Linked DNA regions of Homo sapiens: region 1 is linked to region 2. The links come from fine-mapping of genetic effects on gene expression. Tissue or cell type: whole blood. Region 2 holds a variant in brackets; the other region holds the start of a gene. All regions are shown on one strand. Distances are between the middles of the regions.

Evidence for each region. PIP is the estimated chance that this variant, and not a neighbour inherited with it, causes the effect.
Region 1: PAK1 starts here. The variant in region 2 is fine-mapped to the expression of PAK1 in whole blood (TOPMed, PIP 0.99).

Annotation. Positions count from the first base shown.
Region 1 is chr11:77,471,646-77,476,645 of GRCh38, forward strand. PAK1 (p21 (RAC1) activated kinase 1) reads right to left here and starts at 2,449. Exons shown (of 15, transcript NM_002576.5): 1 at 1,907-2,449. RefSeq lists an enhancer at 1,557-2,473 and silencers at 1,714-2,023, 2,044-2,093, 2,324-2,683.
Region 2 is chr11:77,538,105-77,543,782 of GRCh38, forward strand. It overlaps LOC124902722 (a long non-coding RNA gene), which reads right to left and starts at 5,203. Exons shown (of 3, transcript XR_007062794.1): 1 at 5,169-5,203; 2 at 1,837-1,944. The variant A/G (reference allele first, on the strand shown) is at 2,351.

The DNA of each region.
Region 1 (5,000 bases), 67 kb before region 2:
GGCAGTGGTCTGATCCCTGAGAGCTTTTTATTCCATGTTACTCTGAAATTTATCTTCAGAATATGAAGAGTCAGGGGTAGGGGGCGCTGATGTGGTAAGGTTTTGTTTTACAGAAATCTTTCTGGATGCACAGTACCTTCCTTTGAGGCACTGCTTCCTTCAAACCTAGCACAGGGACTCAAAACATGTGCTTAGTAAATGTATATTGAATTGAACTGAACAAGCTTTTTACCAAATGCCCTGTTATGGATGAGGCAGGTCACCTTCCCTGCAGGACTCACTTTGGCCAAGAGAAGACTTGTAAAACAGGTCCAGCAGCCTCAATTATTGCACACTACTACCTGTACAACTGGAGTCCCCCAGAGATTAGGGCAGACCTTCATTGTTTACTTGTCTACCTCACCCATTAGACTTTGAGCTCTTTGAAGACAGGGAATATCTTAATAGACTGAATCCCCATAGCCTTAGCAAGAGGCCTGAAACATAGTAGCTCTCCGAACTCCAGTAATGTTGGATAAACGAATTGACTGAATAAGCAAATTTACCAAGGTAGACCCATGAGCTCATGTAGTTAAAGAGTATGGATAAGCTTCAGGGAAAGTATGGGAAGTTTTCAGGGTCAATGTTCCCAAAACCCTTTTTGAAAGGCATAGTTTCTAGTTGAGGTGGGGAGTTTTTATATGCACCTGACTTAGAATTTTCCAAATAGGAACCAAAATGTTGTAAGTGCTGTGGTAGAAATCCCACCGGGCCAATGGGAAGAAATCAGCTCTGTCTGTAAGAGGAGAGACAGGATGGAGGCCAGCAAAGACTTCACAGTGTGGGAATTCTTCAGTGGACTCTTGAAAGCTGAGTCCGGTGCTTGCTACTTGCCCGTTTTGGGGCATAAAACCAAACTTCTGGAGCTTTTAAGGCTGGAAGTGACCTGCTCAAGGTCACACAAGAAGTAGATGAAGCCACAGGGTAAGAGAGATGAGGTATCTGTACTGATAATTCCTACTTTCTCCTGACAGAGTTGAAAGAGAACCCAAAAATGTAGGAGGCAAAATTAAAGATTGTTCTCAGGAACAATTCTTAAAGTCAAGACTAATGAATCTGAATTTTTATTAGTAACCACGGAACTAACCCTTCCCTTCACTGTTCACAGTTTTTGTAACAGTAGAACAATTATCCAAGGGGTTTAAAAACCAAGGACGTTGCTCACAACGCCACACCCACTACTTCTCAAGTATTCTTCCAAAACACTCCCAGTAATGTGTACTGCTGAAATAGGATAGCGAAGGCTACAACAATCATGTCTTTTCAAACGTAATAATGAACATAAAATAACTATAAATCTCCTTCCCCGGTTGTTTTTCACTTCCCAAGTTACAGAATATTCCGGGGTGGGGGAGGGGCTGCGTAAGTCAAGTCCTACCAGCCCTTATTTTTCAGGGAGTAGAACCCTAAAGGTGACTGTCCAAGCCTGGAAGGGGTCATTTATTCCATGCAGAAGGAACTGGGCGCCGCTTTGCTGTGCCTCCTCGTAGCGGGACAGGGTGAGCGCCGCAGGACTGCGAAGTTCGGGACGGACTCGGTCCCGGACCGGTACTCGTGTGGCCTCCCGGCTCCAGCCTGGCCTGGCCCCGCCCCGCCCCTTCCCTCTCCCAGGTCTCTCGAATCGCCCGGCGTCTGAGACCCGCGACCCCGCCGGTACGCGCACAGGGGGCCTTTGTTGGCCCGACGGGAGCGGGCCTCGCGGGGCGCCGCCCGCCTCACCTTACCTGGCGCCTCCTCCCGCCCAGGCGCCCGGCCCCGCAACGCGAAATAAATGGGCCCAGACCCCCACTCCACCCGTCCCCACCCCCGCGCCCCAGCCCTGGCAGCCCGGGACGCGAGGGGTACTGGGCGGTAGGCCCGCTCTCACCTTCCGCGCTCGCTCAGCTCCTCTCGGCTCCTCCTCCTCCTCCCGGCGGTGGGTGCCGCCTAGCCGGGAGTGAGGGCGCGAGTGTGCGCGAGCTACCGCTTCACTTTCTCCCTCCTGCCGCCGCCGCCGCGCTGCCCGTGGCGGGGCTCCCCTCAGGACAGGGGAACTGCGAGGGAAGGGATGATGGGGGGGCGGGAGGGAGCGAGGCGACGCGGGCGGGGGGGGAAGGGGGGACTGAGGGGCGAGGTGCGAAGGGCTCAGATGGCCTCTGAGGCAGGAGGTGGTAACTGGATGCGGAGACCAGGTTCCTCGAGGGGGCTCACGAAAGCGCGGGGCTCCGTGGAAAAGGGAATGAGAGTCCAAGGGGGAAGGCGTCTGTGGGGGAGGACTGCAGAGCCTGTGAGGGAAGCGCGATGGGCGAGCGAGGGGGCGGGAGCGTGTGGGGGAAGCCGTGAGGGGGCGTCTACTGTGCAGCCACCACCTTCGGCTCCGGCTGCAGCCGCGGGAGGGCAGCCTCCCCCGCCCACAGCCGCGCTATTGTACGCCGCCCGGCAGGCCTGACCGCCTAGTTCACTGGCTCCCCTACTCCTCCTCCTCCCGCCTCCTCCTCCCCTCTGCCCTTTCCCCTTCTCCCCCTCCCCCTCCCCCACTCCCCCTCCCCGGCGCGGCGGCGGCGGCTGCGGCTCCGGTGGAGCCGTGCCCGCCCCGCCTCCCGCAGGTGAGAGGGGGCGGGGAGGGCCTGACCGACCCGTGGGAGCGAGGCCAAACCCTGGCCCGCATGAGGGCGAACGCCTGGGATTACGTCATCGGCGCGTGACGCCAGAGGCTGGGGAATCACCCGCTTGCTGCGTGACGTCATCGCGTCGCGTCACTGTTCTCGGTCCGCTGTCCGTGGCGGGTTGTTTCCGTGCAGCCTTTCTATCAGACAATTTTGGGACGATTTCTGGGAGGGCTACTGTAGTAGTCAGGATGGAGAAAGACGGCTAACTTCCGGCGCTGAGGGTCCTTTTCAGGTTAACAAAGCACCACCGCATCTATGAGCTCGTTGTCAAGGGCTGAATTTGAAAACTATCCGATGTCGTGTGATCTCACAGCCAGACATGTATTATGTTTTCTTTCTGTGGGAGAGGGGGCAGGGGTGGGAGGAAGACAAAGAAATTATAACGGAGATGTTTGAACTAATGTGAACTGACATACGAAAAGAATGGGCTTCCTTTCACGTTTTTTCCCCTACCGTGGAGGGTACTTTCGACCCAAAGCTTTCTTTCTCCTGAGCTCAGATTGTGTATTTCCCAATACCTCCCGAGCAGCATTACCTGCATACTCTTCGTACCTCAGATTCAACATGTGCGAAACTGAGACAGCATTAGAAAGGCTAAGAGTCCGGAATCAGGTTGCCTTGCTTGAAATCCTAGCTATTCAAATATTAGTGATAGGACCTTGACATTTCTAAGCCGTAATTTTTCTGTAATAATAAGTAGTACCTTAACTAGGTCTTCCTAAGCCTCAGTTTTACCATGGTAATAGTAACAAGCCCTTTAGAATGTTGGCTATTATTATTATTTCCCCCCCAAAATTGCTTCTTACGTTCCTTTCCGTTCTCAATGAATGGGCCACCCATTCAACAATCCCCTAAGCCAGGAACCTAGACATACTAATAGCTCCCCGTTCTTCCTCTCTCAACATCCATATCAAGTTGGACACCAAGTCTTGTAGCTTCTCCTAAATATTTTTCAAGTCCTTGCCTGTGTCGTCTTCTACTACCACCACCTGAACAACTGGAGCAACCTTTAGTCTCTTCAAACTCAATCTATTTTTCTCACTAGTTACCTGAGTAGCCTTATAAAAGCACAAATCTGATGATGTCCTCCCGTTTAAACACCGAAAGGATTTTATTGCTTTCAGGATAAAGTTCAAACTCCTGAACTTGGCACTTTATTACCTGACTGCTTACACTAGCCTTTCTAGCTTTGTCTCACATCATTTATTTTTTGCTCCAAGCACACTGAAATATTAACGTTATTTGAATACACATTTCTTCATGTCTTCAAGCTCTTCCCTACTTAGCTGACTGGCCAACACCTATTCATTGTACAAAGCTGAGCTCAAATGTCATTCATATTCATATTCATATTCATTTGACTAATATTTCTAAAGTTTCCCTAAGCCTTAACAAAACTGTAATTCTATAGTATTTCTATGCCTTTTATGGAAGTAACTGCATTTGTGTATCTAATTTCTTGAGTTCCAAGTCATATTCCTTTCCATATCCTCAGCACCTAAAACAGTGCTTGACATATACCTAAGTATCAATATGTTGTTAAAATATATTTAATAAGGCCAGGCGCGGTGGCTCACGCCTGTAATCCCAGCACTTGGGAGGCCAAGGCAGCCAGATCACCTGAGGTCAGAAGTTTGAGACCAGCCTGGCCAATATGGCGAAACCCCATCTCTACTAAAATACAAAAATTAGCCGGGCGTAGTGGCAGGCACCTGTAATCCCAGCTACTCAGGAGGCTGAGGCAGGAGAATTGCTTAAACCCAGGAGGCGGTGGTTGTAGGAAGCTGTGATTGCACCACCACACTCCAGCCTGGGTGACAAGAGCAAAACTCTGTCTCAAAAAAAATGTATTTAATAAATGTTCCTATTGTTCTTTCTATGTGCCAGGTACTGTTCTGAGCACTTTACAAACACTGTCTTTAAACCTCTACCCTCTACGGTAGATACTGTTGTTATCCTCACCCATCTTATTGATGCGGGAACTGAGGCACAGAGGGGTTAAGTAACTTAACCCAGGATCCTAACCCAGTAAATTGACTCTAATCTGGATTGTCTTTTCGTGATCTCTGCACTAGGCAGAATAATGGCTCATCCAATGGAATGTTCACATTCCAATCCCTGGGAACTATGAATATGTTACCTTCCATGACAAAAGGACTCTGCAGATGTGAGTAAATTGAGGATTTGGGGAAAGGGACTCTCCAGCTTTTGGGAGCAGACTGGAAAATGGAAAAGGCAAGAAAATGGATCCTCCCTTGGAGCCTCTGGAAAGGAAGAGATGGTATCCTGATGATACCTTAATTTTAGCCCACT
Region 2 (5,678 bases):
GAAAAAATGCTAAACAGCATCGCTAATCATCAGGGAAATGCAAATCAAAACCACAATGAGCTATCACCTCCCACCTGCCAGGATAGCCATTATCAAAAAGACAAAAGATAACAATTATTGGTAAAGATGTGGAGAAAAGGGAACCCTTGCACACCATTGGTGAGAATGCAAAATGGTCAGCTGCTATGGAAAACAGAATGAAATTTCTTCAAAAAATTAAAAATAGAACTGCCATTTGACTGAGCAATTCCACTTCTGGATGTTTAAAAAGAATTGAGATTAGGATCTTAAAGAAATACTAGCATTCCCATGTTTACTGCAGCACCATTCACAACAGCCAAGATGTACAAACAATCTAAATGTCCATCAACAGATGAACAGATAAAGAAAATGATGGTACATACAGACAATAGAATACTATTCAGCCTTTAAAAAGGAGGACATTCTACAATATGTGACAACATGAATGAACAATGAGGACATTATGCTAAGTGAAACAAGCCAGGTACAGAAAGACAAATATGGCACAATTCTGCCTAGTCCAATTCATAGAATCAAAGAGTGAAATGGTGGTTACCAACGACTGGAGGAGAGGGAAATTAAGAATTAATAACCCCGAGGCATAAAATTTCAGTCAAGCAAGATAAGTAAGTGTAGAGATCTGTTGTACAGCATTGAACCTATAGTCCACAATAATGTAAAGTTAAAAATTTGTTGGCCAGGCACAGTGGCTCATGCCTGTAATTCCAGCACTTTGGGAGGCCAAGACAAGTGGATCACCTGAGGTCAGGAGTTTGAGACCAACCTGGCCAACATGGTGAAACCCTGTCTCTACTAATAATACAAAACATTAGCCAGGGGTGGTGGTGGGCACCTGTAATCCCAGCTACTTGGGAAGCTGAGACAGGAGAATCACTTGAACCTGGGAGACGGAGGCTGCAGTGAGCCAAGATTGTGCCACTTCACTCCAGCCTGGGCAACACAGCAAGACTCCATCTCAAAAAAAAAAAAATAGTGACTTATTGAATGTGAGATGTGAAGGAAAGACAGGAGTTCAAGAGAACTGCCCAGTTCTTGTTTTTGTGATATTTACCAAGACAGGGTCACAGGAAGAAAAGCAGGTTTGGTGGGGGTTGGTGGGGGCAGTATAGAGGATGAATCAATTTTAGCATTGTTATATTTGACATCCTGAGGTGAACATCCAGGTAGAGACATGTAAACAGTTATACACATAGACCTGGAGCAGAGAGATTTGGGCCTCAGATACTGATTTGGCAATGATCAGCGCATAGAAGACAGCTAAATGTGGAGAGTGAGGATACAAGAAAGAAGGCTGAAAATGGAACCACAGAGAATAGCCAGTTTTAAGAGATGGAAGAAGGAAGCCGTCCTTAAGAAGACACTGCCAGAGAGGTAGGAATAGAACCTATTCTGTGAATCAGGAAAACAAAAGGAGGACAGAGTTTTGGGTAGAACATGGCCAGCTGTGTCAGATGGAGCAAAGCTGTCCAGTAAGACAAGGACTAGAAAGGGTCCTCTGGATTTGCCAAGACCTCTTTGATGACCTCAGCAAAAGCAATTTCAGTAGAAAGGTGAGGGTGAATTCTGCCTGTGTTGTGTATCGGGCATAACCTCGTGCTCCCTGTCACATTCCTTCAACTACTTCCTTCTCTCCAAAGGCACCACTCGCCTCCCACTACTCTGGACCTCTGCTGACTTCCCTGAGTTGCCTGAAGTCAGAACTGAAGTCCTAGACCTGCATGGCCTACACATGCTCCCTTCTGCATAAAATTACTCCTCCACTTTCAGATAGAATGAAACATTTGCCATACCTACCACAAGGCATGAAATCTTGCTTCCTGAGCTGGTGCCAATGGACCAGATGATGCACCATGGAAGTTACACAGCAGAAGTGGAAGGGAATTATCTTCTTGTGGGGCAAACCTTGACAAATGGGAAATAGGAGACAGAAGTGAGGCAAACAGATACGTTTTTCTCATTGTTCCCTTCCATTTTAAGGTGTGATTGCTCCTTGCAGCCATGCCAGAGAACTCCCACGGCTGAAGGACACTACCTGCTAAGTCACCTGCCGTTTCTCATCATGGCTTGCTGGAAGCAGGGACCAACATTGTAACACATCATCCTGCCTCCACTGACTTGTCTTCATTTTTCCCTTTCTAAGCTCCCAGAAAGAGAATCAGCACCTGAATCCTGACCCCAGGCTCTGCAATCTAGAGAACCTGGGCTAAGACACAGTTAGCGAGATAAGCTATAAGTTGAATAGGATGTAAGATACAGAGAAAGACAATGTAGACAATATTTTCAAGAAATTCCCTTCCCTGTGAAGGAA[A/G]GGAAAAAAAGTGGATTTCGGGGAGGGAAAGGAAACAGGTCCCAAAATTGTTTAGAAGGTGCCTCTAAAGCTGATACAGGCTTTGGTTAAAATGTTGCTATAAGAAAGAACATTTAAATTCACTCTCCATTTAGACTACTTGAGCCAATAGGCTCTCAAGAGCAAGTGTTCTATTTTTCTGACGTTTCAATACGATGTAATGAGAAAGGGAATAAAAAGGAGGGTACCATAACAGAGTGAATAGGAATTAGATTTGAGAAAGGCAGAGTTGGACAAGGTAGAGAATTGTCAAATTAGAAGATGAAAGGAATATTAAACATCCATGTTAGAGCAACTATTGATCCGGCTCAGACTCACATATTTGCTGTATTCCCTAGGTCAGGTTATCCAAAGAACATAGCAATATCATTTTATTTATAGATGACTATCAAAAGTACTAGTAACATCCAGCAAAAACTATCATCCAAAGATGTCTATTTACTTTGCTACAACAGAACCAGCCTTTAACCCAATTCAACTTAACAAATATTTATTTGCCCCTGTCATGTGGGGGCTCTGTGAAAGTAGGGTGGTTGGGGACATAGGGACCCTTCTCAGATGAATAAGATCCACTGGTAACCTAAAGATGACTATAATCTCAGAGTTAGAAATAAAATAGAGCACACTGATTATTATCATTGAAGGTCCGTGATGGTTAATTTTATGTGTCAGCTTGATTGGGTTAAGAGATACCCAGATCACTGGTAAAACATGATTACTGGGTGTGTCTGTGAGGGTGTTTCCAGCAGAGATCAGCATTCCAATCAGTAGACTGAGTAAAGAAGATCCCCTCACCAATGTGAGCAAGCGTCATCACATCTGGTGAGGTCCTGGATAGAACAAAAAATCAGAGGAAGGGTGCATATGCTGTCTCTTTCTGGGACACCAACCCTCTCTCTTGCTCTAGGATATCAGAGCTCCAGATTCTCTGCCTTTGGACTCTGGGACTTACACCAGTGGCCTCCCAATTTCTCAGCCTTTGGCCTCTGGGACTTACACCAGTGGCCTCCCAGTTTCTCAGCCTTTGGCCTCGGACTTAGAGTAACACCATCAGCTTCCCTGGTTCTCAGGCCTTCAAACTCAGACTGAATTAACCACCTGCTCTCCTGGTTCTTCAGCTCGAAGACAGCATATCATGGGCCTTCTCAGCCTCTATAATTGCGTGAGTCAATTCCCATAATAAATCCCCTCTTATGTAGCTAAATATATTCTGTTGGTTCTGTTTCTCCAGTGAACCCTAATACAAGATTGGATAAAACAAAAGCCATAAAGAAGATACAAACAAAATTCTAAGGAGGTCCTAAGCAGGGAGAGATTATGCTAGTGAAAAATAATTAAGAAAAACTTAATTGAGAGAGGTGACATGCTTCTTAAACATAATTTTAATAGTTGGATATGGGGGGAGGCTGGGCAGATATAAGAGTAAATCCAAAGACATGGAAGCAGGAAATAACAGAGTAGAATTGAAGAATGATAGACTTTGACAGTTTTGAAGGATATATCCAAAGTACTTTTAGAACCCTAAATGTTCCTATGTACCACTATATCAAGAAATTTTTCTCATAAAGTGCACACATGATGCTGAGTATATAGCTACCAAGCTACACGTGCTGTAAAGGATGGACCATTAGCTGGGCTAACTTAGCAACTAACTATGTGACTTGCTTTTTTTAAGTAACACTAGAAATTGATTTCTCCCAGTTCTGGAAGCTGGGAAGTCTGAGATCAGGGTGTTGCAGGGTCAGGTTCTGGTGAGGGACTTCTGGGTTGCAGGCCGCTGACCTCTCATTGCATCCTCACATGTTAAAGAGCAGAGCCCACCAGCCTGCCTTTTCATGTCCATGTCCTAGTGTGCAGGATTCAGATTTAGGTCTCAGAAAAATGAACATGACCACCGTTTACTCAGGAATGGTAAAAGCCTTGAATGTTAAATCCATAAATATCTACTGCCCACAGCAGTTCCATTTGGCTGCAGTGCTCAGCATGAATCATCCCAGAGATGAATCCTGCTTATTTTAAGATGAATGAGAACATTCTATCATTTGTTGGAAATTTCTTAATATTTCTTCTACTTTGATGAATCACTTCTGCATGAACATACCCCATGTTTTGTCTTCTCTCCTATCCCACCTCTTAGCTAAAACAAAGGGAAAATGGATTTGCAGATCAAGAACTGGAGAGGCCCAGCCCTTCAGGAGGCCTCGTAGGCCTCTGCTGACCGTCAGAAGAGTGGCCCATAGTAGCTCCCCGACCATAGGTCAAGAAATACTGTCTTTCTTTTTTTTTTTTTTTTTTTTTTTTTGAGATGCAGTCTCGCTCTTGTTGTCTAGGCGCAATCTCGGCTAATTGCAACCTCTACCTCCCAGGTTCAAGCGATTCTCGTGCCTCCGCCTCCTGAGTAGCTGGGATTACAGGTGCCCGCCACAACACCTGGCTAATTTTTGTATTTTTAGTAGAGATGGGATTTCACCATTTTGGCCAGGCTGGTCTCAAGCTCCTGCCCTCAGGTGATCCGCCCATCTTGGCCTCCCAAAGTGCTGGGATTACAAACGTGAGCCACCGTGCCCGGCCTGAAATACTCTTTTAAGTACAAGCCTTAGAGATAAGCATGACCTTACAGTACTGACTGGGGGAAAAAACCTCTAACCTTGGTCACATCCCAGTTTCTCTCTCCTGCTGCCTCTGGCAGCCTTTAAGCTGTAGAAGAGGAGATTGCAGAAAGAAACACATTTAAGCCGGGCACGGTCTCTATTTTTGTACTAAAAATACAAAAAATTACCCGGGCGTGGTGGTGCATGCCTGTAATCCCAGCTACTCGGGAGGCTGTGGCAGGAGAATCACTTGAACCTGGGAGGCGGAGGTTGCAGTGAGCTGAGGTCGCACCATTGAACTCCAGTCTTGGCAACAACAGCGAAACTCCATCTCAAAAAAAAAGAAGAAACACATTTAAGATTGCACAAAAAAGCAATGACAAAAACAACAGCAAAAAAACACAAAACCGTGGTCTCCACTGCTTGACTCACTGCCAGAAATAGTAGGCACTGGCCAGGCACAGTGGCTCACGCCTGTAATCCCCACACTTTGGGAGGCCAAGGCAGGCAGATCACTGGAGGTCAGGAGTTCAAGACCAGCCTGGCCAACATGGTGAAACCCCGTCTCTACTAAAAATACAAAAATTAGCTGGGCATGATGACATGCACCTGTAATCCCAGCTACTCAGAAGGCTGTGGCAGGAAAATCATTTGAACCCGGGAGGCGGAGGTTGTACTGCACTCTAGCCTGGGCGATA